2 separate regions of the Homo sapiens genome follow, and region 2 is linked to region 1. The links come from fine-mapping of genetic effects on gene expression. A gene starts in region 1. The other region holds a variant in brackets. All regions are shown on one strand. Distances are between the middles of the regions.

Evidence for each region. PIP is the estimated chance that this variant, and not a neighbour inherited with it, causes the effect.
Region 2: its variant is the best candidate, but not a certain one, in a credible set for the expression of CMC1 in whole blood (INTERVAL, PIP 0.59).

The regions. Positions count from the first base shown.
Region 1 is chr3:28,239,928-28,244,326 of GRCh38, forward strand. It overlaps CMC1 (C-X9-C motif containing 1), which reads left to right and starts at 1,692. Exons shown (of 4, transcript NM_182523.2): 1 at 1,692-1,885. The coding sequence starts at 1,867. RefSeq lists a silencer at 1,905-1,984.
Region 2 is chr3:27,730,091-27,734,489 of GRCh38, forward strand. No RefSeq gene overlaps it. Among named protein-coding and RNA genes, the nearest start is that of EOMES, 10 kb to the left of the region's middle. RefSeq lists an enhancer at 1-927. The variant ATT/A (reference allele first, on the strand shown) is at 2,470.

The DNA of each region.
Region 1 (4,399 bases):
GGGCACACAAAACCCATGATATTACAGATACTGTTGCTTAGGATAAGGCTAAAGTAAATAGTGCCTATTTAAGTGTTTTTAAAAATGTGTTGATTTAAAAACAAATGTTAAATAGTAATGTTTCAAGTAATAGCTATGGCAGAAATGGTAGAAGTGGTCCTTTAAAGTCTTTCAAATGCATTGTATGATATCACATTTATTCCTCAGAACAACCTTGTAAATTGGAAACCAAAGTCCAGAAAAATAATAGAACTTACTCAACTCACTAAGATAACAGATCAAACTTTCCTCCTTTACCATAATACCCTTTTGCATATAGAAAGATTTAGTTTAATTCTTGAATATGGGTGTCTGACCTGTGTTTTCATACTCCATCTCCTCAAAAAGATTGCTTTAGCTTTCTAAATCAAATCCTTCACCTTCAGAACAATAAAAGAGGCATACCAGAGTCATTTTGGTGTATTTCTAAGCATATTTACAAAATATACAAGGAAAAGGACCTGATTCCCTGGCTGGGTGAGTGAAACGTTAATTCTTCACCTTGGCACCTCAACCTACAGCTGTAATAAGGGCCGTTATGCCCAAATAGGCCCTTAAACGGAAGACCTGCTGAGCAGAGACCCACTTTCCCAGCCCTGCTCAACTGCCTCAGCTTTTCTGCCAACTGACCAGGCGGAAGCAGCAGCAGGGGAGGAGGGACTGCAGGTAGGTGGGGAGGGGATCATTTTGAAAGCCCTGAATCCCTTGCAGGGAAGAAGCAGCTGCTCCTTGTTTTTCTAAACATCTGTCCCATCTGTCCCAGGCCTCAGCTCACCCTTTCGTGGCTCGAGCCAGTTAAACGTGAATTTGACAAGGAAGCACTTCTGAAGGCTGGTTTGTGAGTGGAAATGAACCTAAGTGCCACCTAGAAAGTTTCTTCTATTGAGAAGAGGTGAGTAGTGGGTCTTCAGCGGGACGGCTATTACCTTCCTTCATTTTACTCTCACAAAACATACAGCTTTTACTGATAGAGGCAGGATTTGTAACATCACCCAAATCATACTGTACGTCCTGAGGATATTATTTCACAACATAGAGGTACTTCTAGAGCCCATATTTTAACGTCTAGGAGAGCCACAGTCTTTGATTTGAAGGAGAAATAACGATATTGCACACACCATATCACCTTTATGGTAGAACAAGCTGTGAACAACTAGTGCGTGTGGCGTTTATCACATTTAACAGCGTGTTGCTTTTATTTGTCTCCTCTGCCACACTGCTCCTTGAGAACAGGGACGTTATTTTTATTGTTATTTTCCCCTCGTATTCAGAACCGTGGCTGGAACTTGGCAGGCATGAAATAGACATTTATGAATGAATGAACGTTAACGAAGAAAAAAAAAGGAACTGGATGATTCATTTGGTTCTCCGAAGGCGGGTATGGGGGACGGGGCTCGGACTTTGGCCCAGTCACCGAGTGAGGCACAGTCCCAAAGTCCTGCAGGTCCGCCTCCAGTCACGGCCGACCCGGGTCTGCAACTGGTGCACAAGCCTCCTGAAGCGAGGCTGCGCGCGTCCTGCACGGTCCCGCCCCAAAGGCACGCAGACACGCCCCCTTTCCTGGTCATTCCCCCTGCGAAGTCAGTTCCACTCTAGTTACAGGATTGGGGCGGGGCCAGAAAGGCGCAGGCGCAACGGGCGGCGGAAGTAGGAGCCTGGGAAGGAAGAGGGAACGGGTCCTGGCGGTGCTTTGCAAAGGGCCCGTGTTTCTGTTGCGGGAAGCTCCCGGGGGTCGCACGTGCGTCCGAGCCCAAGCCCCTCCCCTCCACTCCCCTTCCTGCGTGCCCCGGAGCCGCCAAGCGGCTACGTTCTTCTCGGCCCGCCGAGATGGCGCTCGACCCCGCAGGTACCGGGGCGGGAAGCGGGGTTTGCCGAGGGGCCTCGCCCCGGGTCTCACGCCGCGGGCCATGCGGGCTGGATGCCGACCTGGGAAAGGTGCAGAGCTCTGGGTAGCATTGCTTCCACCAGCGTCTCCTCATACCCGGCGGCTGCTTCGCCCGGTCTGAGGTCATCTTCTCACTTGTTGGGGATTATGGTTATCTGAGGTTGCGTTTGTTGTCTAAAGTATCATCCATTGTGGTTTCCAACTTAACGCGACTAGTCTCTTCATTGTCACCCTCTTTTCGCCCCTTAAGGTCACAGATGCATTTAATGTATGCTGCAGACACTCTGGCCCCAGAAAAATTTGTATATTTGTTCTGGCGCACAGTTTTACATTTCTGTTTGGGAGTTCATGGACCCCGAGTTCATCCTTGTAACCCAACTTAAAAACATATTTCAAAGGATCCATCACTATGGCAGGAGTCAGTTTCTTTGGAAAGGATCTTCAAAATCTTGAATGTTGTTTTAATCTCTTTGCTTCCAGCCACTTCCGTTTGCAGCAATAGTTAACTTACCCTCGAATTCCCGTCCTTGTGGAAGGTCACCTGCAGTATCTTTGCGTTAGGCTATTTTTGCAAGGGAATAGATAACATTTTTGGAGGGAATGGTAGTTGGTCTAGTCCATTTCTTTCATTTTATGGATACAAAAAGTCAAAACATTGAGAGGTAAATGGCGTCAAACTTGGGAGATTCAGAAATGGAAAATGCTCTTTCGGAGCCTTCAAGGAGCATGGAAAATATATGTAGCACAGAAATAATGTTTTAATTGAACATGTTATTACCATGCTAAGTGTTCTCTATTATCCAACAATAATATGTGGTATGGTAGGTCCTTTTAGCTCCATTTTACAGATTAGGAAACTGAGGCGAAGAGAAGTTAAGTGACTAGTCCAGCAGGTAGTGGTAGATCAGGGAGTACTCTAATTTGAAGCATAGAGGAGTTCTGGAACATAATGATCATATTCATTTTGGACTAGGTGGTTATGAAGCAGTTAGCAGTTGATCTGGGCTTTGAGGGATGGAATTTCCAGTGGTTGGAGCTGGAGAAGAGGCAGCCCTATGAGCAAAGGTTTAGATAGTAAGGTGCACTGTGCGATGCTTGGTTTCAGGATGACTACCATGATTTGGTTCTTGAGGGTAGAAGGGGTAGAGTATAAGTGAGGGGTGAGTAAGGAAGGTTCAAGTTTAGGCCCATATAATTTATGGTATCTTTTTTTTTTATTTTACTGAAACGGAGTCTCACTGTCGCCCAGGCTGGAGTGCAGTGGCGCTATCTCGGCTCACTGTAGCCTCCGCCTACTGGGTTCAAGCAATTCTCCCACCGCAGCCTCCTGAGTAGCTGGGATTACGGGCGCCCGCCACCACGGCCGGCTAATTTTTGTATTTTTAGTAGAGATGAGGTTTCGCCGTGTTCGCCATGCTGGTCTGGAACTCCTGACCTCAAGTGATCTGCCTGACTTGGCCTCCCAAAGTGCTGGGATTACAGGTGTGAGCCACCGCACCCAGCCTAATTATGGTACTTCTGAACTTGAAGTGACCTTTAAAGTAATCTCATACGGATGAGGAGACTGAGAATGAGAGAGGTTAAAGATTTCCATATATCTACACTTTTTGAATTTAGACAAGGAAATTTGGGAAAAAAGTCTTCATACTTGCTCTCTTCACTTGCTTACCTTCCAGTTACTCATAAGCCACTCCAATCTTGTGTTGTACCCAAGGCCACACAGCTAGTTGCTGGTAGAGTCAAGTCTGGTTAGAACCTAGGTAATTTCATTTCCAGTCCAGTGCTGTAGACCATGCCACCTTTTGAGTATTGATTAAACAAAGACTTGTTGAGTGTCTGGTATATGTCCCATATTGTTCTGGACCCTAGGGAACAGTAGTACATAGGACAAACAAAATTCCTGCTCCCAATAAAGCTTATCTAGTGGTAGAAAAAACAATTAACACCCCCTTTTCCCCCTACACAGACACGTGCGTGGGCACACACACATACACACACACATTTTTACAGATTGTGATAAACATGAAGAAAATAATGTCATGTGGTAGATGGTGAAGAGATTAGTCAGTGAAGAGCTTTATGAGGAAGTGTCATTTGAATTGGAATCTGAGGGATGAGAGGAAGCTAGGCAGAGTGTGCTTGGCCATCAGGTAGCAAATACTTAAAATATTTAACTTGAACGTGGGTCAGAGTGTGGAGGGGATCCATAAGGAAAGATATTGGGAAAGTAGGTAGTCACTAAATGCCTAGATATTGCAGAGGCTGCAAGTCCTCAAAGGCTGGCTGTGATAATAAAGCATTTGGATTTTTTCTAATGGCATCAAATGCCTTTAGAATCTTTTAAAGAGGGCAGTAACATAATTTATGTGTTTATTATCCTCGCTACAGTGGTAGCATGCATTGTAGAGGGGTCAGGTCATAAGTGGAAGAAGGGAGACAGGTTAAGGGATAGGAGCAGTAGTCCAGGCCAAATAT
Region 2 (4,399 bases), 510 kb before region 1:
CCAATTGAGCAAGGGCTGGGAAGCGAGAAGGCTCCTCTGGTCTCTCCCTCCTCTGAGCGCGGGACCTCGGCGGACACCCTAATCCCGAAACACTCCTCTCTGGGACTGCGCACTTGCCAGCACGACAGCCAACTCCGCCTCAGAGGAGTCTTTTAGGGCTCTGAGCGAGTGGCGAATGCTCCCCCGGTGATGCACTATCGCTCCCACCCACGCCCTGGTACGCGCAGCCCGGGAAAAAGAAAAAAAAAAGTCCACGTAGGGGCTCAAACCCAGGCGTCAGGCGCTGCAGTCAGGGAAGGCTCCCTTAGGGGCTGGGTTCCTGGCGCTTACGACGCAGAGAAGGATAAGGGCGATGGTTTCGCAATCCCACCCCCTCCTTTGTCCTCCTCCCCACCTCCCAGCCTTTGGCGGCTTAGATCTCCAAATGCAGTCTGGATGGCACTCAGGTATTCGAGCGCCCCAGTTTATCTTATCACCGCCCCCTACAAATACACATCCATTCCAGATTGGCTTCTGGGAAAAGATACGGGGGTAGGGGATCCCACATATTTCCTCTCACCCTCCCTCTTTGGTCCTTGACGCCGAGAGTCTTCTCTGTTTCTCCGTACCCTTAGGTCATCGTCCAGGGCAGAGGTTAATTTAGACATCTTGACTGCAACAACTGATAACACTTACATACATGTATGAATATATCAACAATACATTATATGTAGTATATATTATATAATATAAAATCAATATATACTTAACGTACTTGCATGAGTTAAAAAAAAAATACCCAGCAACCCAAAAGCCACCAGATTACCAACTCTTGCGCCTCCCAATTCCTCGAAGTGAAGGCAATCACTATTAGTTTCTCCTGTGTATTTCTGGGGCTATAATGTTATGTTTGCACCAGCAAGTACGTAAGCGCACCTGAATTTCTCTTTATCTGTCCCCCACCCATCTGCACGCTTTTATACACTTTATTAACCACCTTGCTTTTTTCACTTATAATATATCTTTAAGTTAGTTCCTTGGAGACGTCGGAGTTTTTGCTAGCTTGACATCCCGGGCTCACAACTGGCGGGAAATAGCTTAAAAATTATATTGATGCTTTGAGGCCTTTCCTTGCAGCTGCTTGCGCCCACAAGCTGCAGTCCTTTCCCCGGTCAGCAGCCGGCTGTCCCGCACCCCCCGGCAGAGCGCAGAGGGTCGAAAGATTTGCGCCGCAGAAGACGCAGCGTCCCCTTGCGCTGCGTGTGCGGAACCCCGCTGTGAGAGTTTCCCTTTCACTGAGACTCCTTCATTGTTTGTCCTCTGAGACCCCCAAAGCAGGTAAACAAGCACTGATACCCTGCCCTGTGATCAGAAGCTCTTGGGCCAGGGAGCGATCTGCTAGATGGTCCCAGTGCTGCCTTAGGTCAGATCAAAGCGGAGGACCTAGAGGGAACCGTCAGCCCCATTAACATCCCGCTCTGCTTGCCAGCTGGGGCCTGAAGAGGGTTGGGCAGGTGTGGGCCAGGAATTGCTTGTTACCTAAGGTCCAGGGAGCGACCCCATCTGAAACACTTCCTGAATTCTCCTCGGCCCCAGTGGCAACTCTTGGAAGATGCTGAAGTTCCTTACATTTCTCAGAAGTCGCACTGTAAAATTCAGTTGATTCCACAATATTAGAAAACACTTGTTGACCTAGTATGTGTGTCAGACATTGCACGAGGTGCTGGGGTACAAAAGTGGATGATGTTGGATCCGGACAACATCAAGTCAGCAAATAAGAGAGTATCAGAATATCGAGGTATCAGTCAAACGGGGTAATGCGGTGGTTCCCAATCTTGGCTGCATATTAGAATAATCTGGAGAGTTCTTAAAAATCCTAATGCCCAGGTAGCACCACGGAACAATTAAATCAGAATTTCTGGCGGTGAGACAAGGCATCAGGATTACTTAATGATCCCCAGGTGGTTCCAATATGCAGCAAACTTATGGGTTGGTGGAGGCTCTTTATGGAGAGTTGACATTTGAGCTGAGACAGCAATAGGGAGGTGGCAGTCAGGAGAAGGCGTGTGGGAACACCCCGCGACCAGCCCTGAGTCTGCTGATGCTCTGGGATTGGCAGTGGGGGAGGGAAAAAGAGGACATTTGACAAGTAGAAGGAAATATGTGATGCAGAGCATCTAGTCACAGTTCACTGCATCCCTGGGAAGTCTCTCAATTGCCCAATTCCATAGGAAAGCTTTAAACAACACTAAAAAATATCTACCTTAAAATGATGGATTTTTACATGCAATTTTAAAACTAAATAATGCATAAAAATATATGAAAAATAGAATAATGCTAGAAAGCTTTTAACAGCAACTTCGTGATGTATTACGTGAGGACATTTCAACAAATCTAAGATGCCATCCATTGATATGCCTAACTGATGTGTTCACCACAAAGAAAACAAAAGCTGTGTCCTAGAATTTTAATTTTGTGCTTATTGAAATA[ATT/A]TTTTTTTTTTTGAGATTGAATCTTGTTCTGTTGCCCAAGCTGGCGTGCAAGATCTTGGCTCACTCCAACCTCCACCTCTCAGGTTCAAGTGATTCTCCTGCCTCAGCCTCCCAAGTAGCTGAGATTACAGGTGCATGCCACGATGCCCTGGTAAATTTTTTTTTTTTTTTTTTTGTATTTTTAGTAGAGACGGAGTTTCACCATGTTGGCCAGGGTGGTCTCGAACTCCTGACCTCAGGTTATCCACCTGCTTCAGCCTCCTAAAGTGCTGGGATTACAGGTGTGAGCCACCATGCCCGGCCAATAATTGCTTATTTAGAGAAAGTATTATTTTCGTATTTCACTCATGCACACATAAAATGGACAATAAAAGCTGTATTCACAAGCAGTGACAGCTATTTCAGAACTGCCATCTGATCAACAGTAGTGGTAAGACACCATTGCTTGTAGAATGTATCTTATTTCTAAGAAGTTAAAAGATGTGTCATAGAATTAATGCAAGTCAGTGTTGTCCAATGAGCTCACTACTCTCAGTGCTTTACATCTTTTAGTTCATTTAGTCCTTACTATGATATGATATGAGGTAGGAACAATTATTTATTAACAACATTTATAGGTGAGAAAATTGAGACATTGAAAGCTAAGTTACTTTAAGTCAGACCATTACCAAGTTGCAGAGATAGGGCATAAACCCACCGAGGGCTTAATTACAATAGGAGCCTGAGAAAATTGTCCACATGAGCCAACTGAGACTCAGAAGTGTTGAAAGGAGGGGTACAGGGTGAGAAGTGAGAGAAAGGGTTTGAGAACTCAATTAAGTTGTAGGTTGGGATCTGCTTCTCTGCTTGATCTGTCTCATAATATTTTAGGAGTAGAAGGAATCATGTGGTAAGACAATACTATATAGCCAAGAGTATTCTTATCCATTAAAATAAGAAAGAGATGATAAAATACACAGTTATCATCTTATTTCTTAAAAATAAGAAAGAGATGATAACTATATTTTCAGGCCATAATTTTCAAGTAAACTTTAAAAAATAAACCTAAAGTAAATACATACAAAAAAGTACAAGTATTCTAAATTCACAACTTGATATGTTTTACCAAATTGAACACACTTGTATAACCAGCATCCATGTTAAGAAATCCATTATTGCCCAAATTCCAGATGCTTCACATTCTTCCTTCTGCTCACTGCTTCCCATGAGGTAACCATCATTTTGACTTTTGTAACCATTGATTAGTTTTCCCTGTTTTTGAGTTTTATATAAATGGAATCTTATACTGTGTTCTTCTTTGTGTGTGGCTTCATTCACTCAACATGTGTTTGGGATTCACTCATGTTGTACTGCATACGTGCATTTGTTCCATCTCCTTGCTGTGTCATATCTCATTGTGTAAATATATAATTTTTCCATTCTGCTGTTGAAGACATTTGTGTTGTTTCTAGTTTTTGGGTTATTATATATAGGGCTGATATGAACATTCTTGTACATGTCCTTTGGTGAATATCTGTATAGTCTTTCTGTCAGGCCTGTACTCACAGGAGTGGGATTGCTGGGACACAGAGGTCAGACTATATTTTTTAAGAGAGTTAGTAACATTTAAAAATTTTTGGCTATTTGAAGATGGTACCTTATACTCTTAATATTTAAATGTAATAATTTTATGGAGTATTAAGGGAAGGGATATCAAGTTAAAGAAAGCAGCAAAAATGAAAAGGAGATAGAAAGATAGAAGCTATGCTGTAGCATACACTTACCTTTCTGTATTCTTCTGTTCAACACTAAATACTTATAAATACACTTCCTCCACAAATTGTTGAGCACCCACAGAGAAGCATGTTGGCAAAGCAGACAGGGATTAGGGAATATTGAGAATGCAGAGGAAGCCCCTTGCTTACATTTCATCTTCTAAATTTATGACT